Linked DNA regions of Homo sapiens. The protein of the gene in region 1 purifies or fractionates together with the protein of each later gene. This does not show direct contact. Each region holds a gene or a part of one and is shown in the gene's direction. Other genes may lie near its edges.

What was found.
Region 2: the proteins of ASS1 (region 1) and PYGB fractionate together in Homo sapiens (co-fractionation; one large-scale study listed by BioGRID). This does not show direct contact.
Region 3: the proteins of ASS1 (region 1) and NIT2 fractionate together in Homo sapiens (co-fractionation; one large-scale study listed by BioGRID). This does not show direct contact.
Region 4: the proteins of ASS1 (region 1) and SIRT3 purify together in Homo sapiens (affinity purification with mass spectrometry; 2 studies listed by BioGRID and IntAct, with this or other methods). This does not show direct contact.

What each region holds. Positions count from the first base shown.
Region 1 is NC_000009.12:130,478,955-130,483,099, forward strand, and holds part of ASS1 (argininosuccinate synthase), read left to right. Parts: intron 1-761; coding exon 762-846; intron 847-1,430; coding exon 1,431-1,495; intron 1,496-4,145. UniProt on the Homo sapiens protein: One of the enzymes of the urea cycle, the metabolic pathway transforming neurotoxic amonia produced by protein catabolism into inocuous urea in the liver of ureotelic animals.
Region 2 is NC_000020.11:25,278,802-25,282,946, forward strand, and holds part of PYGB (glycogen phosphorylase, brain form), read left to right. Parts: intron 1-255; coding exon 256-348; intron 349-1,464; coding exon 1,465-1,611; intron 1,612-2,147; coding exon 2,148-2,311; intron 2,312-3,231; coding exon 3,232-3,346; intron 3,347-4,145. UniProt on the Homo sapiens protein: Glycogen phosphorylase that regulates glycogen mobilization. Phosphorylase is an important allosteric enzyme in carbohydrate metabolism. Enzymes from different sources differ in their regulatory mechanisms and in their natural substrates.
Region 3 is NC_000003.12:100,340,974-100,345,118, forward strand, and holds part of NIT2 (omega-amidase NIT2), read left to right. Parts: intron 1-99; coding exon 100-188; intron 189-4,145. UniProt on the Homo sapiens protein: Has omega-amidase activity. The role of omega-amidase is to remove potentially toxic intermediates by converting 2-oxoglutaramate and 2-oxosuccinamate to biologically useful 2-oxoglutarate and oxaloacetate, respectively.
Region 4 is NC_000011.10:218,981-223,125, reverse strand, and holds part of SIRT3 (NAD-dependent protein deacetylase sirtuin-3, mitochondrial), read left to right. Parts: intron 1-3,525; exon of another isoform or gene 3,526-4,084; coding exon 4,085-4,145.

The sequences.
Region 1 (4,145 bases):
TGGGTGGGGGATTAGCCGCCAACTTTGAACAGCTTTTCTTTGTCACTGTTTCAGCTCTCTTGTTAGCCCCAATACATTTATTGCTCATTTCACACCGCTCGAGAAAGTGCCCCTTGCTATTCAAAGTCAACCCCGAACCCACCCACTGCCCCCACCCAACCCCTTCCCTCCTGCCACCCCGGACCCAGCTCCTCGGATTCAGGGACGCTGCCGACACCTCGCCTGCTGGAGCGGGCACCGTGTCACCCCCATCAATCAGATGGCTGCGTGTGGGTCTGGGGTACAGGGTCGGGGCGCGGGGTCCGCCTGACAGACGTGGCAGGGGGCTGTGTGTGTGTGTGTGTGTGTGTGAGCGAGTATGTGTGTGCTTGAGCCCAGCCACACCTCGGCCAGGCGGCCCCCGGGTGACTGGTGGGACAGAAGGTGCTCCCGGCGTAAGACAATGGTGGAGCGTGAAATTCAATTAGTTCAGGGCCTGGTTCCAATTTCACAGCCCCTAAATGCAAAAGGGGCAAAGAGAATGGGAGGGTGGGGGAGAGCGTTTTTATTGCATTTTCTCTTTCATTCTGGGGGGCTTTCTCGCCCCTTCTCTCCCTGCAGCAGGCCTCAACCTGCACAGGGCTTTTGAAGGAGTCATTTGGAGTCCATATCTGTCACATCCATTTAAGGCGTTTCGGGAGGAGGGAGAGGGTGGGGTGGCGGGTGCAGACTCCTCCGCTGAGCCGGGCCCAGAGGCCCACTGCCCTCTCTTCCCACCCTAGGGGTCCCTGTGAAGGTGACCAACGTCAAGGATGGCACCACCCACCAGACCTCCTTGGAGCTCTTCATGTACCTGAACGAAGTCGCGTGAGTGTCTGCAGCCCTGTCCGGCCTCTTGGGAACCGCCGTCTCGGGCGAGCACGAGCCTGGACCGTTGCAGCTAATGGTTGTGGCTGAGGCTCAGGGGTGCGGAGCACAGGCCATGTCCCTTCCCCATAGCCACAGAGTTTCCCGGACCAGGGGGACCCATTTGGCAGGAGAGGCTCCGTGGTCCTTAGCCTTGGAAGATAACAACCCCAGGAGGTCTCCTGCCTCCAAGGGATCATTAGGCCGGGGCTCTCAGGCCCTTGGCTGGATGGGAGGCCAGGATAGAAGGAAAGGGAGCAGTAGTTAGCTGTGGCGCTAGGCAGGGCCCCAGGACACAGGGAACGGAAGGAACAATGTGAACTCACACCTGGGCAATCCCTGCTCTCTCTGGGCCTCAGTTTCCCCACCTGTCCAGTGGGCACCTGGACTAGGTGACCCGGCTCAGATGTCCTCTTGAGTCTTAGATCCTGAAATGCTGCCTAATGTGTGGCCTAAGCTGTGCCCACCCTGGGACAGCCCAGCTGGGTGGGTGACTCTGAGCCTTGCGGTAGCGCCCGAACCTAATGGACCAGTTCTTCCCACAGGGGCAAGCATGGCGTGGGCCGTATTGACATCGTGGAGAACCGCTTCATTGGAATGAAGTCCCGAGGTGAGTCTGCTCAGCCTCCCTCAGGGCCTGCCTCGGGACCCAGCAAACCCAGAGATCCCTGAGACCCTGTCCCCTTTGGACGCTACTACCCCCATGCTCCGTGGGCGACCTTGGGCACGTCCTTTCACCACACCCCGTGAGACCGCAGTTTCCCTCCTGCCAAGTGGGGATCGTGGGCCCTTTGCCCCTGACTTTCAGGGTGTTATGAGAAGAGCTGTCCAAGGGCTGGGAGAGGCCCAGGAGGGCCTGGGGAGTCTCCGAGGAGCAGGGAGGCCAGGGCCAGGCCTGGAGGTCAGGCTGTCTTGTGTCTGGGGTGGGCAGGCCGGGTGTGGAGGCAGACCGTGCAGGCCCGATTTCGTGGTCATTAAGGCCGCATGGAGGCCGCCGGCCAGGCAGGGCGAAAATCCTGCCAGGGGTGGGCGCTGTGGCTGCACAGGCACTGGGAGCCGGCCAGGGCCTAAGGACCTGTCCCAGCATCAGGCACGGCTCACTGGCCCTTTTCTCCAGGGATGGGGCTGTGCCACAGTTGGGGCTGTGCCGCAGTTGAGGCTGAGCTTCAGTGTGACATGCCTGCCACCTCGGCTGGCCTCTAGCCTGCCTAGCCTCGTATCCGCCTGTGGCTGGGCCCAGGAGCAGGGCAGTTGGTCCCCAAGCAGGTGCCTCTGTCTTCTCTTAGTAGCCAAAGCCCATGATTCCCTTTGTCAGCCAATCAGCATTTCATCTTGACCACAACCCTCCTCTCCAGGACTCAGTTTCCCCATTCATACACCAAGGGGATCTCAGCTCCCTGAGGGTCTGCCAGTGTGTGATAAAGCCATGCTGTGTTCTTTCTTGGGGGTCCTAAGAGGGAAAGAGCAAGGTTTCAGCAGTTGCAGCCCCTGAATTGGGCACCTGAATTTTTATACTGGTGGTGGGGTCAGGGCTTCCTGTTTCGGTAAATGTTCAGGTCTCTTTGCTTAGGGTTGATTTGAAAAGATACCACAACCAAATATCACCTGGCCACGGTATAGTCACGGCCCCATGTCTCTCAGGCTATTTTTACTAAGATTCTAAAATCCAAAGAGAGCCGATCACCCCATGTGGGCCAGAAGAAAAGGGTGGTGGTCCGGAGGGCAGGATGCCTGCTTCTGGTCTCAGGTTTGCCCTGCCTTGCCCAACAACCTTGGACTTGTCATCTATCGCTAGGCCTCAGTTTCCCCAAGTGTAATGCGGTAGGCGCTGGGAGTTGCATCACTCTGGCTCTGACCTGTCTGCGTTTCCCTGGAAAGGCATGGCAGCATGGACCGGGGCGGGGACGGGCTTGCCTCGAAAGACATGGGAGCGCGGAAGGGGAGGCAGGCTCGCCTCTTTCTTGTGGCTTTAGCTCCTTGCTTGCTGTTATTCAGGAGAAACAACCTAATTGAAGCTCTGGGGAGGCCTTGAGAACAATGTTACTAATTAGCTGCTCCTTTTTATCCGGGCTTACCTTTGTCTCTTACCTATATTAACATGTGATTAGATGCCCCTTTGTCGCAGCCTGCCCTTGGGAGCCAGCGCGGTGTGCACCCTCCAGGGAGAGCTGGGAGGGACCTTGAGGAGCCACAGACCAGCACCCCATTTACAGATGCGGAAGCCAGGGCTGGGGAGGGGTGGGATAGAGGGCTTGCTTCAAGTCCCAGGCACTTTAGTGGCAGGACCAGGACTGCCATCTGGGCCCAGAGTGGCATGGAGTGGAGGGCTAACAGCTTAGACTGGAGTTGGACAGATCTGGGTTCAAACTCATGTATGGTGGCAGGAACTGGTACACTGGAAGTGCTCCATAAATAGCCATCAGTCCCCCGGGCATGTGGAATGGGGACAGAAGCAGCCCCCATCCTCTGGGAGCTGTCAGTGTGGCGGGGGGTGGGGTGGGTTCCAGTATTGCACCTGTCTTATCATAATAAGGGCCTGCCACAGGCATGCCCTTGCCATGCCTGTGGCAGGCATCACCAGTCAATGCTGGCATTATCCTGTTGACTCCAGAGGTATCTCAGGGCTGCTTGCAGGCACTACCAAATGATCAGGATTGGCATACGTGATGAAAGTGTATTGCCTTCCCTATTGGAAAGATAAGGACTGGCCTGAAGTCACTGTGAAATGGCATCCTGTGGGGTGGGGCGAGTCAAGCAGAGTTGAGCAAAAATGAACTGAAGGAGGTGGTTAGTGATGAAAACCTGGAATGCACTATTCTGAATGTGGAATGGTAGCTGACAGCATTCCACGGAGGCTGGACCTTTTTCCCAGAATGGGGGCCTCATCCCCGTAGAAGGTCAAAGCCATGAGATCAACAGTCTGTTCCAATCCCCGTGGCTCCTTACCACCCACCTGGGGAAAGCTTCCTGGAGCCCAGCCTTCACTCTGCCCTGGTACTTTGTGTGTGCTGTTGGAGGCTCTCCCCAAAAGCACAGAATTTAGTCAGTGTCGTACAGGGAAGAAAATCGGGATTCTGACGGCAAGAACTTGCTGTGTGATCTTAGGCAAGTTTCTCCCTCTGGAACTCCAATTGTCAAGGGGCCAGATGAGGAGGTCGTATCATCTCCCTCTGAATGTCCTCACTCACCTATTTTCTTGCTTTGGGTTGGGGAGAGAAGACAAAGTTGCTAGGTAATTTTAGGGTGGTGTCTTGTTTTTA
Region 2 (4,145 bases), on another chromosome or scaffold:
CAGCACATACCCGCAGCAGAGCACACAGCTGTAGGGCACTCACCAGCAGGCACATCGGGCACAGCGCACACCTGCCACAGTGCGAGCCCGACTGTCCTCCCTGCTCCCTCCACAGAACCCCTCCCTGTTCTCCAGGCTTCTCGGGGGTGGGGTGGGCTGGGCTGGCTCCTTCACTTGGGGAGCTTCGTATGCCAACAACCGTGGGTGCCCACGTGGGATGAAATGACTGAATGGCACCCCTTGTGCGACCTTCAGGTGGCCATCCAGCTGAACGACACCCACCCCGCCCTCTCCATCCCTGAGCTCATGCGGATCCTGGTGGACGTGGAGAAGGTGGACTGGGACAAGGTGAGCATGGAGGAAAAGGGCGGCACCTCCCCAGAGCCTGGAGCCCGTGCAGACCAGGGCTACAAGGAGCTGAGCTGGGGGGCCTCTTCCCTGGCCTTGGGAGAGCTGTGTGGTCATCATGCCCAGGAGAGACGCGAGCTGTGGGAGGGGTCTGGTTCCAGGAGACGGAGGTTCCGGGGGCCAGAGTATGGGGTCAGGGCGCGGGGGAGATGATAAGGATAGGGCTGTGACACTTCTCAGGGTTTCCCGTTGGTGCATTCTCATCTTGAAATTTGGTGACAGCTCCCCAAAGCGTTAAGTGTTTAGAGGTCTGTGCTCTATTCATGCACCTGCCCTCGCGATTCAGTGTATTTTGGACTTAAATATGTTTGTGTGGTAGGATTTTCTTAATCTAACCGTTACCAAATCAACATGTGGAACCATAAAACAGGCCAATGTGGTGACTCACACCCGTAATCCTAGTGCTTCGGGAAGCCAAGGCAGGAGGGTTGCTTGAGGCCGGAAGTTAGAGACCAGCCTGGGCAATACAGCAAGACCCCACCTCTAAAAAAAAAGCCAGGTGTGGCAGCACACACCCAGAAAAATAAAACCAAAAGAAACCATAAAACGATTTTTTTTAACTCCGTTTTGTAGAAACCCAAGCCCCTCTCTGGTCTTGGGGTGTGTGCACTCCAGGTGAGGCTGTACCTGTTGTGGGTACCCCAGTTCTGGCCAGCATAGGGCAGGTCTGTGTAGTAACCAGTGTCCTCCCCACCATGTCTGGCCACTTTAGTGGAAATAAATAGAAAACTGCTCAATGGTCTGTCCGTTTACCAGTGACGGCAGAGTGTGAAGGTGACTCCAGGTAGCAGGCGATTGTGTCTTATTTGTGTGTGTGTCACGCACTGGACCATAATGTCACACTTCAGTGGGTTGCGTCAGCAGAGTGAGGGCTCTGGGCTGCGTGTCAGGCTTTCAGAGGGCTCCAGATCCACCTTGGAGAGCAGAGGGGACGGTGGCCCTTCCTGGGGTACCCAGCATCTGCCTGGGATCCTGGACGCTCACCCTGCCTAGGCAACTGGCCAGAGAGCTGCTTGTTTCTAAACAAACACATGGGAACATTCTCTAATGGCCTAGGCCTGGGAAATCACGAAGAAGACCTGTGCATACACCAACCACACTGTGCTGCCTGAGGCCTTGGAGCGCTGGCCCGTGTCCATGTTTGAGAAGCTGCTGCCGCGGCACCTGGAGATAATCTATGCCATCAACCAGCGGCACCTGGACGTGAGTGTGGGCCCAGCTGGCCGTGTAGGGTGGCGGCTACACCCATGCCAACGGCCCCCCACCTGGCCTGGGAGAGGAGGTGCTTTGCTCCTTGAACGAGGCACCCTCTGTTCAGCAGAGGATGCTTGGGGCTGGGGGCTGTCCCTTGGCAGAGCTATTGGCTGATCCCCACGCCTGGCCCACAGCCTCAGGTTCCTCTTTGTAAATTAAATTGCACGTCCTCTCCCTCAGACCCATCTTCCTCAGACAGCAGCCCTGTGGGTCCCTGGGCCGGGCTGGGCCCTTTCCTGGGCTGGGGAGTTGGGTGAGCGAGAGCCTCCTCCTCAAGCTGGGCCTGGGCTCTTGTGAGATGCCTTGGAGGTGCCTGCTGGGTCTGGGAGCACTTGAGGGAGGTCTGGCTGTCACAGCCCCAGAACTTCCCTGGAGGCAGCAGAGCTTCCCATGGGTGGTCATGGAGTGTCCCCTGGTCATGGGGAGTGCTGGGTCTCCGTGGGGCCTCCTGTGCCCACCCACCTGCCTCTGTGTTTTGGCACCAGCACGTGGCCGCGCTGTTTCCCGGCGATGTGGACCGCCTGCGCAGGATGTCTGTGATCGAGGAGGGGGACTGCAAGCGGATCAACATGGCCCACCTGTGTGTGATTGGGTCCCATGCTGTCAATGGTGTGGCGAGGATCCACTCGGAGATCGTGAAACAGTCGGTGTGAGTGGGGCGCTTGCCCGAGCGGGGCCAGCTCTGTCTGACACCCAGGCCTGCGTCTAGGACCATCCACCAAACACATGGACCCAGCTATATAGCATACAACCTGTGCCACTAGGCCCCTGCCTCCATAGGAATGACAGAGCTGCCCAGAACACCCTGTCAGGGTCACGCCTTGTTGTGCGTTCACCGACCAGCACACGGGGGCCTCTGGAGGGCTCTGGCTCTGCGGGCAACGGGGAGACGGCTTTGTCTCCTGTTGCTCTCCTGCGCCCCTGCCTTCCTGGGGGTCCAGTCGGAGGCTCTGCACCACTGGTCCACCTGCCGCTGGCAGGGCTTGGACAGGGCTTGAAGGTGGGATTCTTAGGTCAGATCTTGTTCTTGCCCCTCTTAGGTGGGGCGTGATCTAGGAATTACTCCCACTCTTTCACGTAGCATGTGCTGAGCACCTACTGTGAGTACTGAGCAGGCAGCAGCCGGCGGGAGCGGAGGCTGTGCCCGGGGCTGGGCTGCAGGCTCTGTGCGTGGCGCCCGCAGCAAGCTTCGTGTCGGGCCCCTCCCCAGTAGCTATGAGGAAACCGAGCGCAGCTTCTCAAGCCCTGAAGTCCTGCGGTCTCGGCTGTCATGACTTGGACACCTGTTTCCGCACGGACCGCTCTGGAGAATGGCCAGGCTCTAATGCCTGCAAGGTTGTGGTTGGGCAAACCGCACAGCCAGCCACAGATGCCCCGGGGTGCAGGTGCTGCCTTCGTATGGCTCCCAGAGCCTGCAGCTGCCGCGGTCACTCTGTTCTCCTTAGAAAACAGAACAGAACCACTGAGCTTGAGGGCTCCTGGGACCTCCTTAAAAGGACTTTAAGGTCTGTTGCTCACCTGGTGCAGGGCACAGCATTTGTGACAGTTCCCTGTTCTCTGTGTTTGCAGCTTTAAGGATTTTTATGAACTGGAGCCAGAGAAGTTCCAGAATAAGACCAATGGCATCACCCCCCGCCGGTGGCTGCTGCTGTGCAACCCGGGGCTGGCCGATACCATCGTGGAGGTGAGTCCCGGGCCCCACCCGTGCCTGTGGAGATGCCTGGGCTGAGAACCGCGGGCCATGTCATCAGCCCCTGCTGAGCGGTTGCTGAGTAGGCAGGAGTCTGTCCCTCACGTGTTGACCTGCAGGCTTCTGGACATGAGGGCTGAGCCCCTGAACATGGGCGCTGAGCTGGGCAGTCACCCATTGGGCCTGGCGGGTCCTGTGTGCGAGTTCAGAAGCCGAGCTTTAGGGAGGGCTGGGGTGTGGCTGAGTGCAGCCACGGGGCCACTGCAAAAGAGTCAAGAGGCAGCTGACTGCCAGCTAGGCTGGGCACCTATTTCCTGTTTGTATGTTGGCTCCTATGCAAGCTCCCTGAGGAAATGAGTGCTGAGGTGTCAGGCCCTGCGCTACAGGCAAGGACCAGCCGCTGGGAGGGTGGGACCGCCCACCTGGGGCTATGGTCAGGGAAGCCTTCCCAGGAAAGCTGAGGTCTGAAGAGGGAATGAAGAGAGAGTGAGCAGTGCTCTGGGGCAAACTGGTTCAATGCCCTGTGCTGGGGGACGGGCCCCTGGGACCTGGAAAGCAGCGTGGCTCCTGTGCAGTCTGAGATGGGCCTGGGTACAGTGAGGAGAGGTGGCCGAGTGTTTGCAGGCAGCACCTGGGTGAGGTGCTGGCTTTGAGGGGACCGCCTGCTTCAGGCAGGGAAGGTGCTGGTGGAGGGCAGCGGGAGGATGGCTTTGGGTTTTGGGTGGTGATGGGATGTTCAATGTCAGAGAACCCTGGGATCGGTGGCTGAGGGAGGGTCGTGTGTTTCCTGTGG
Region 3 (4,145 bases), on another chromosome or scaffold:
TCTTTATTTTTGGACCCAAGTTATCAGGCTTTTATCCCTTTCTCACAAAAGAATTGCTCTATTCTTTTTCTTATGGTATGTTTCTTCTCTCAATGAAAGGCTCTATCCCTGAAGAGGATGCTGGGAAATTATATAACACCTGTGCTGTGTTTGGGCCTGATGGAACTTTACTAGCAAAGTATAGAAAGGTAAGTAGGAAGTGTGGCATAAGAATTTGTTATCTCTAAGCCAGCAACAATGTGTGGAAAAAAAATTTGCTATGAAGTTCCCTAGTCCCTCTCATTATATCACACATGTATTAGGGTTTTGACTGATTGGCACAGGTGGTTATTCTTGGCCATTTGCATTTTTATATAAGTTTTAGACTCAGCCTGTCAATTTCTGCAAAGGAACAAGCTATAGTAATTTTTTTTTTGACAGAATCTCGCTCTGTCACCCAGGCTGGAGTATAGTGGCACAATCTTGGCTCACTGCTAGCTCTGCCTCCTGGGTTCACACCATTCTCCTGCCTCAGCCTCCCGAGTAGCTGGGACTACAGGTGCCCACCACCATGCCCAGCTAATTTTTTGTATTTTTAGTAGAGACTTGGTTTCACCGTGTTAGCCAGGATGGTCTCAATCTCCTGACCTCATGATCCACCCGCCTCAGCCTCCTAAAGTGCTGGGATTACAGGCATGAGCCACCGTGCCCAGCCAACCTATAGTAATTTTTATTAGTATTTCATTGAATATATAGAGAACACTGTGGGAAGAGTTGCCATCTTTTTAGTATTAAATGCGTATACATGACCAGGTGCAGTGGCCCATGCCTGTAATCCCAGCACTTTGGGAGGTCTGAGTAAGTGGATCACCTGAGGTCAGGAGTTCAAGACCAGCCTGGCCAACATGGTGAAACCCCATCTCTACTAAAAATACAAAATTGGCTGGGTGTAGTGGTGCACACCTATATAGTCCCAGCTACTCAGGAAGCTGAGACAGGAGAATTGCTTGAACCCAGGAGGTGGACGCTGCAGTGAGCCAAGATTGCGCCACTGCACTCCAACCTGGGCAAGACAGAGCAAGACTCCATCTCAAAAAAAAAAATCATATACATTTAGTATCATTAAGTCTTCTTGATGAGTTGACCCTTTTATCATTATGAAATATCTCTTTTTTTTCTTGTAATACCTCTTGTCTTGAATTCTGCTTTATCTCTGCTATCACTATAGCCACTCCAGCCTTCTTATGCCTAATGTTTGCTGGTACGTGGTTTTTCCAGTTCTTTGTTCTCAAGCTATATGTGTTTTTATATTTTAAGTGGATCTCTTTTGTCAACAGCATATAATTGTATCTTAATTTTTTCTTTATTCTGACAATCTGTGTCTTTTAATTGAAGTGGTTAGTCCATTTATATTTAATGCACTTATTGATATGATTGAATTTAGGGATAGAGACATTTTACTTTTTTTTCCCTTTGTTCATCTTTTCTGTATTATTTTGGATTAATTGAATATTTTTTAGAGTTCTGTTTTAATTTATCTATTGGCTTTTTAGTTATACATCTTAGCTTTTTTTTTTTTTCCAGTTGTTGCCCTGGGAATTATCATATGCATCCTTAACTTTTCACAGGCTACTTAAGAGTTCATATTATATCATTTCATGTGAAATTTAAGAACCTTATAATGATATAGGTCCATTTTTCTACCCCACTGCCCCTGCCCTCATTCTTTATGCTATAGTTGTCATTTGTATTCCATGTATATATGTTATAAATCCCACAAAACAGGAATACTTGATTTAAATAGTCATATGTATTTTAAGGAAATTAAGAAGAAAAAAATCTTTATGTTTACCCAAATATTTATCATTTCTGGTGTTTTTCTTTCCTTCCTGAAGATCCTCCTTCTATCTGGTATATCCTTCAGACCAAAGGATCTCATTTAGAATTTTTGTTCTGAGGATCTGTTAGCTAGGAATTCTGTTAGTTTTTCTTTATGAATATATCTTTACATTGTTTTCATTCTTGAAAGATATTTTTGCTGGAATAGAATTTTGGATTGATAGTTTTCCTTTTTTTCCACTAGTAGTTGTTATCTAGCCTTTTTTTTTTTCTTCCCTGATGAGAAGTGAGTAGTAATTTGTATTGTTCCCTCGGATATAATTTGTTGTTTTTTCTCTCCTTCTTTCAAGTGTTTTCATAATCTTTAGTTCTTAGTATTTTGACTCTGATATGCCTAGATGTGGTTTCCTTTGTCTTTGCCTTCCTTGGTACTTCTTGAAACTGTAAATTTAAATCTTTCACTGTGTTTGGGAAGTTTTTTGACACTATTTTGTTAAATATTTTTCTGTTCCTTTTTCTTATGGAGCTCCAGTATATGTATATTATATTTTTAAATATTTTTCCAAGGTCACCAGGCTCTGTTTTTCTGTTTTTGTCTTTCCAATACTTTTTCCTTCTCTTCTACAGATTAGATAATTTCTGTTGATCTTTCAGACTTATTCACTGTTTCTTCTGTCTTCTTCAATTTCCCGTAAGCCAACCCAGTGAAATTTTAAAAAATTGAGATATTAAAATTTTCAGTTCTGAAATACCCCTTTGCTTCTTTTTTATAGTTTTTATTACTCTATGATATTTTCTATTTGTTCATTAAAAGCATATTTTTCTTTACAGTGTTGAGCTTAGTTAGTTTCTATAGCTGCTTTAAAGTCTGATAATTATCACATCTGTGTGCCACAGAATGAGACTATTAGGCCTTTAAAAGGCCCCTGATGTAAATAAACTCATATCCAAGCAAACAACAAGAAAAAAATTATAACATCTGGGTCATGGCAGGATCTGTGTTCATTTGATTGCCTTTTCTTTGCAGTTTGGATCACACTTCTGTTTCTTTGAGTATCTACTAATTTAAGATTGTACAGTGGATTATATATTGTAGAGATTCAAGATGCTATTACAGTCTTCCAAAAAGTGTTGAATATTTTGTTTTAACTGATGGTTAACTTGGCCGCACCCAAACACCAAACTCTTATCTTCTTTGAAACGTGGGCAGCAACTTTAGCTGCTCTGTTCTATCTGGTTGTTCTGCCCCACTTCTATTTAACTCAGTGATCAGCCAGAGATTTAGAAAGATTTTATATGCAGAATTTAGGGCTCTCCCTCTTTGCTTTCTCCATTTCAGGATTTCCCCCCTTGGTTTCCAGCTCTGGTTCTTCAAGCCAGTGTGATTATGGGTCATTTTCACCACTACTTATCACAGCAACTGGGACCTTGCTTCAGGGTAGCAGCTGTAAATAGCACCAGGAAGTTCACCCAGGGCTGTTCCCTGCTTCCACATGTCTGTGTTCTTCTCTTCAGATTTTGTCTGCTTTGTTTTGGTCATTCTTCAGTGCTTTAAGTAGTTGTGCCTTTTATTTTGTCCAGAGTTCATAGTTAACCACAAGAAAACTGGTCTGATAGGAGCTACTGTGTACCTGCTGGAAGAACAGCCAGCATTGGACTATTAACCCAACTCTTTGAAGTATATCTTTTTAGTATTAAGTTTTCCAGTCCATGAATGTGGTATATATCCTGACATTTATTACGCTTTCTTTACTTTCTCTCAATTTCTTTTTATAGTTTTTTGGGTATAATTTTGTTTAACATTTGTGAGATTTATTCCTCATTGGTGTTTTTAGATGCTCTTTCATTTTCTGTTTTTGTTTTTGTTTTTTTGAGATGGAGTCTTGCTCTGTCGCTTAGGCTGGAGTGCAGTGGTGTGATCTTGGCTCACTGCAACCTCCACCTCCCTGGTTCAAGCTGTTCTCTTCTTTCAGCTTCCCAAGTGGCTGGGATTATAGGCATGCACCACCATGTCTGGCAAATTTTTGTATTTTTAGTAGAGACGGGGTTTCACCATGTTGGCCAGGCTGGTCTTGAACTCCTGACCTCAGGTGATTTTTAAATGCCCACCTACTTTCCACCTCTCCTGTCAATTTGTCAGTTTGATTCTGATAAGTATTTTTTTTTTCTTTTTTTTTTTGAGAGAGAGAGTCTTGCTCTGTCACCCAGGCTGGAGTGCAATGGCGTGATCTCGGCTCACTGCAACCTCCACCTCCCAGGTTTGAGCAATTCTCCTGCCTCAGCCTCCTGGGTAGCTGGGACTACAGGCACGCACAACCACCCCCGGC
Region 4 (4,145 bases), on another chromosome or scaffold:
CCGAGGACAGAAGGGCCAGAAAGACCTGTGCTCAGAGGGGCCCAGGGCAGCCACAGGGGCCCAGAGCATGTGTTTGTTCAGGCATTCATTGTGTGCTGGGCCCTGCTCCAGTGCTTTGGACATACACGGTCAGATGTCAGTGTAAGAAGTTATATAGTTTGTTAGGAGATGATTGATGTTATGAGAAAGATAACAAGTAGGATAGAAAGGCTAGAAGGGTTGGGAACCAGCTGCAGTGTCAAGTCAGGCAGGTGGAGTTGGATCTAAGAGTTTACCGAGGTGAGGAGGGTCTGGCAGGGGACACTGCACAGGTGACAAGCAGCAAGGAGGGTGGGGCGAAGTCAGCATTGATGGCCACGGGGCTGGAGCAGAGAAGAAGGTGGGGCACAAGTGTCATCTCATGGGAGGCTGGCGCCACCTCAGAAGGTGAATGGGTTCAGCTTGGGTTCCAGGCCAGAGTCTGAAGTTGAGAGGACTCCGTTGGGTGCTGGGCTGTGAGCCCACCATGGGGGCAAGACTGGGAGCAGCAGACCCAGCAGGGCCCTTGTAGGTAATCACCGGCTGGCACTGGCTGGGGGCCAGGTAAAGCCAGCAGAGGCTGAGGGGTGCTGGAGTCTGGGTGTGTGTGAACGCAGAGTGGGTACGCTGGCACAGTGCATGGGAGGCCGTGGATTCCCAAGGACCCCAGGGCTGTGGCTGGAGCAGCTGGAAAGACGGAGCCGCCGCTTCCTGAGATGGAGAAGCCTGGTAGGTGGGTTTGGGGGAGCTCAGGAACTCAGCCTTGTTTCCACGGATTTGAGGATGTGCTGCGGACTGGAGGTGTTGAGCAGGTGGACATGAGTCTGGAGTCCAGGAAGGCCCAGAGGCAGGAGCTGGGGTGCTGGAGTGAGCAGACAGGAGAGCCCAGGGTGTGGACAGACATGAGAATGCCATGCTAGGCCTAGGATGGAGGGACAGACACAGGAGGAGCAGTCAGAGGGGCCATGGTGGTCAGCACAGTGTGGGCTGAGACCAGCTGACCGTGCTGGCCACCAGGTGTGGACACTTGGGCCACCAGCCATCTTTATTGTTGAAGTGAAATGAAAATGGCCTTTTTCCTGATTATAAGTGTATCATGTGTGTCTTTGAAAAGATTCGTACATTATATAAAGATATAAAGCAAAGGATCAACTTTTTAATCCCACCAACTGTTAGCATTTTATTCTGTGTCCTCTCAGCTTTCTTTTTTTTGTACAAATGCATACGTACAGATGGTAATTTTAAACTAAAAGTTGGACAGCACTGTACATTCTATTCTGCAGCCTGCTGTTTTCACGTAACAATGTGAGTCCATGGAGATGTGCTGCGTTGTTAATGCCAACAGTTTCCCTTACACGGATATGAGGTCCCAACTGAGAAACCCATGTCTGTAAGGCTGGTGCCATCATGAACTGAATGAGCTGGTGTCACGCACAGACTCTATCTCATGTGCTTTGTGGACGAAATGTTAATGTGTTTGACTGTGGAGTACCACTCCAGATCCCCTTTAGGTGTGACATAACGTGGGATGTAAACCATATGATCTTTTCTAAAATCTCAAAAATTCTGAAACATATTCAGCCACAAGAGCTTTAACATAGATTTTGTGGATTTAATACAAAATTTATGTAAGCAATTTCTTACTGATGGACAATGATAATAAATAGTATATAATTTTTACATTAAAAGTAATGCTGGGCCAGGCACCGTGGCTCACACCTGTTATCCCAGCACTCTGGGAGGCCAAGGCAGGAAGATTGCCTGAAGCTAGGCATTTGAGACCAGCCTGGGCAGTATAGTCAGACCTCGTCTCTACAAAAAATAAAAAGATAGCCAGGCATGGTCTGTGTAGTTGCAGCTATTTGAGAGGCTGAGGAAGGAGGATTGCTTGAGCCCAGGAATTTGAGGTTATAGTGAACTATGATCATGCCACTGCATTCCAGCCTGGGTAACAGAATGAGATCCCGTGCTGTAGTGAATATCCCTGTGTATCATCCTTATCTACTCATGCAAGTACTCCTGAAGGGTAAATGCTGTAGTGAATATCCCTGTGTATCATCCTTATCTACCCATGCAAGTACTCTGGAAGGGTAAATGCTGATAAATACTGAGAACTTGCCTTCCGGTGAATATCCCTGTGTGTCATCCTTATCTACCCATGCAAGTACTCCTGAAGGGTAAATGCTGTAGTGAATATCCCTGTGTATCATCCTTATCTACCCATGCAAGTACTCTGGAAGGGTAAATGCTGATAAATACTGAGAACTTGCCTTCCGGTGAATATCCCTGTGTGTCATCCTTATCTACCCATGCAAGTACTCCTGAAGGGTAAATGCTGTGGTGAATATCCCTGTGTATCATCCTTATCTACCCATGCAAGAACTCCTGAAGGGTAAATGCTGATAAATATTGAGAACTTGCCTTCCAGAAAGATGTAACAATTACACTGCCACAAACTGTGTTTTTATGTAGCCATTTTATCACATCCTCACCAAAACCAAAATCACACAAATCAAATTGGTTAAAAAATGCATGTGTGTGTGTGGAGGGGGGTGCGGATTTTGCCTTTCTGTAGTAAAGAATGAAGTTCATCTTTTCATGTTTATTGCCAGTTGTGTTTCTTCTCTTTGGATTGTATATTTGTACCTCTTGACCATTTTTCATTGGGTCATTATAAATTAGCAATATAAATTAGTTTTAATTTTAGTATAAATTAAATAATATAATTACATTTTAATGTTAATATAAACTTCTTTCTTTTTTTTTTTTTTTTTTTTGAGACAGAGTCTTGCTCTGTCTCCCAGGCTGGAGGTTCAGTGGCGCGATCTCGGCTCACTGCAACCTCCACCTCCCAGGCTCAAGCCATTCTCCTGCCTCAACCTCCCGAGTAGCTCGGATTATAGGTGCGTGCCACCACGCCCAGCTAAGTTTTGTATTTTTAGTAGAGACGTGGTTTCACTATGTTGGCCAGGCTGGTCTTGAACTCCTGACCTCAGCTGATCTGCCCGCCTCGGCCTCCCAAAGTGCTGGGATTATAGGTGTGAACCACCATGCCCAGCTGTTAATATAAATTTCATTATAAATTAGCATTATAAATTAGTTCATAAATTATATGTTTATAAATGAGTTTATCAATTAGCAATATAAACTATTGTCATATGTTGTAAATATTTTTGCAGTTTATGATGATGAGAGGTTTTTAAAAATTTTAAATTTTCTACATAGTAGTTTTATGTAGATACCGAGATAATAGTATTTACATAGTCAGATCTGTCATTTTCCTTTGCCTTATCTGACTTCAGTTTTTACGCCTAGAACGTTCTTCCCTATCCTTACTTGTAAATCCTTAGTTTTCTTCAAGAACTGTTTTGTTTACATTGAAACCTTTAATCCATTTGAATTTTTTTCAGTGGGAGGTAGGAATGGAGTATTTTCCTCCCAGATAATGAGCCAGTTTTAATGCCATTTATTAATGTATCCATTTTTTTACCTTGTTCCTCTTAAAAGAAGCTTTGAGAGCTGTATGAAGAAGCCTGATGGCACCGAGCTAGGCCTCTCTAGAGGCTGGGTGGGGAAGACCATGGAGAGACGTAACAGTAACTCCTGCTCGGGGGCACCAGCTCGTCTGGGTGCCCGATGCTGGTGGTGGCTGTCAGAGCAAGCAGGGCTAGCCAGAGGAGATGGACGAGTCTGTGCTGTTGTCCCTCTGCGTCATGCTGGGAGACAGCGAGGTGGGGAGGACAGGGAGAACAGAACGTGCTCACAAAGAGGAGGCAGGAAGGTTGGATCCCTGATGAGCCTTGGAACGGAGGTGGGGAAAAGCAAGGATGTGTGGAAACAGCAAGAAGTGGGAGAGAGAGAGAGAGGCGGAGGGGAGAAAACCGTCACGGAGGCCAAGCGGCAGGAGCTCAGCTGAAGAAATGAGATTGGTGGTGGGTTTTCCCTATATCGCAGGCTCTGACTGCCAATCTGCTGCTCCTCCAAGGCCTCGGTGGCTGTGGCATGAAACATCCTGAGGAGCTTGTAAAGTGGACACTGTGCCCCTCACGTTTGGCCCATTTTTCAGGTGGAGCCTTTTGCCAGCTTGACCGAGGCCGTGCGGAGCTCAGTTCCCCGACTGCTCATCA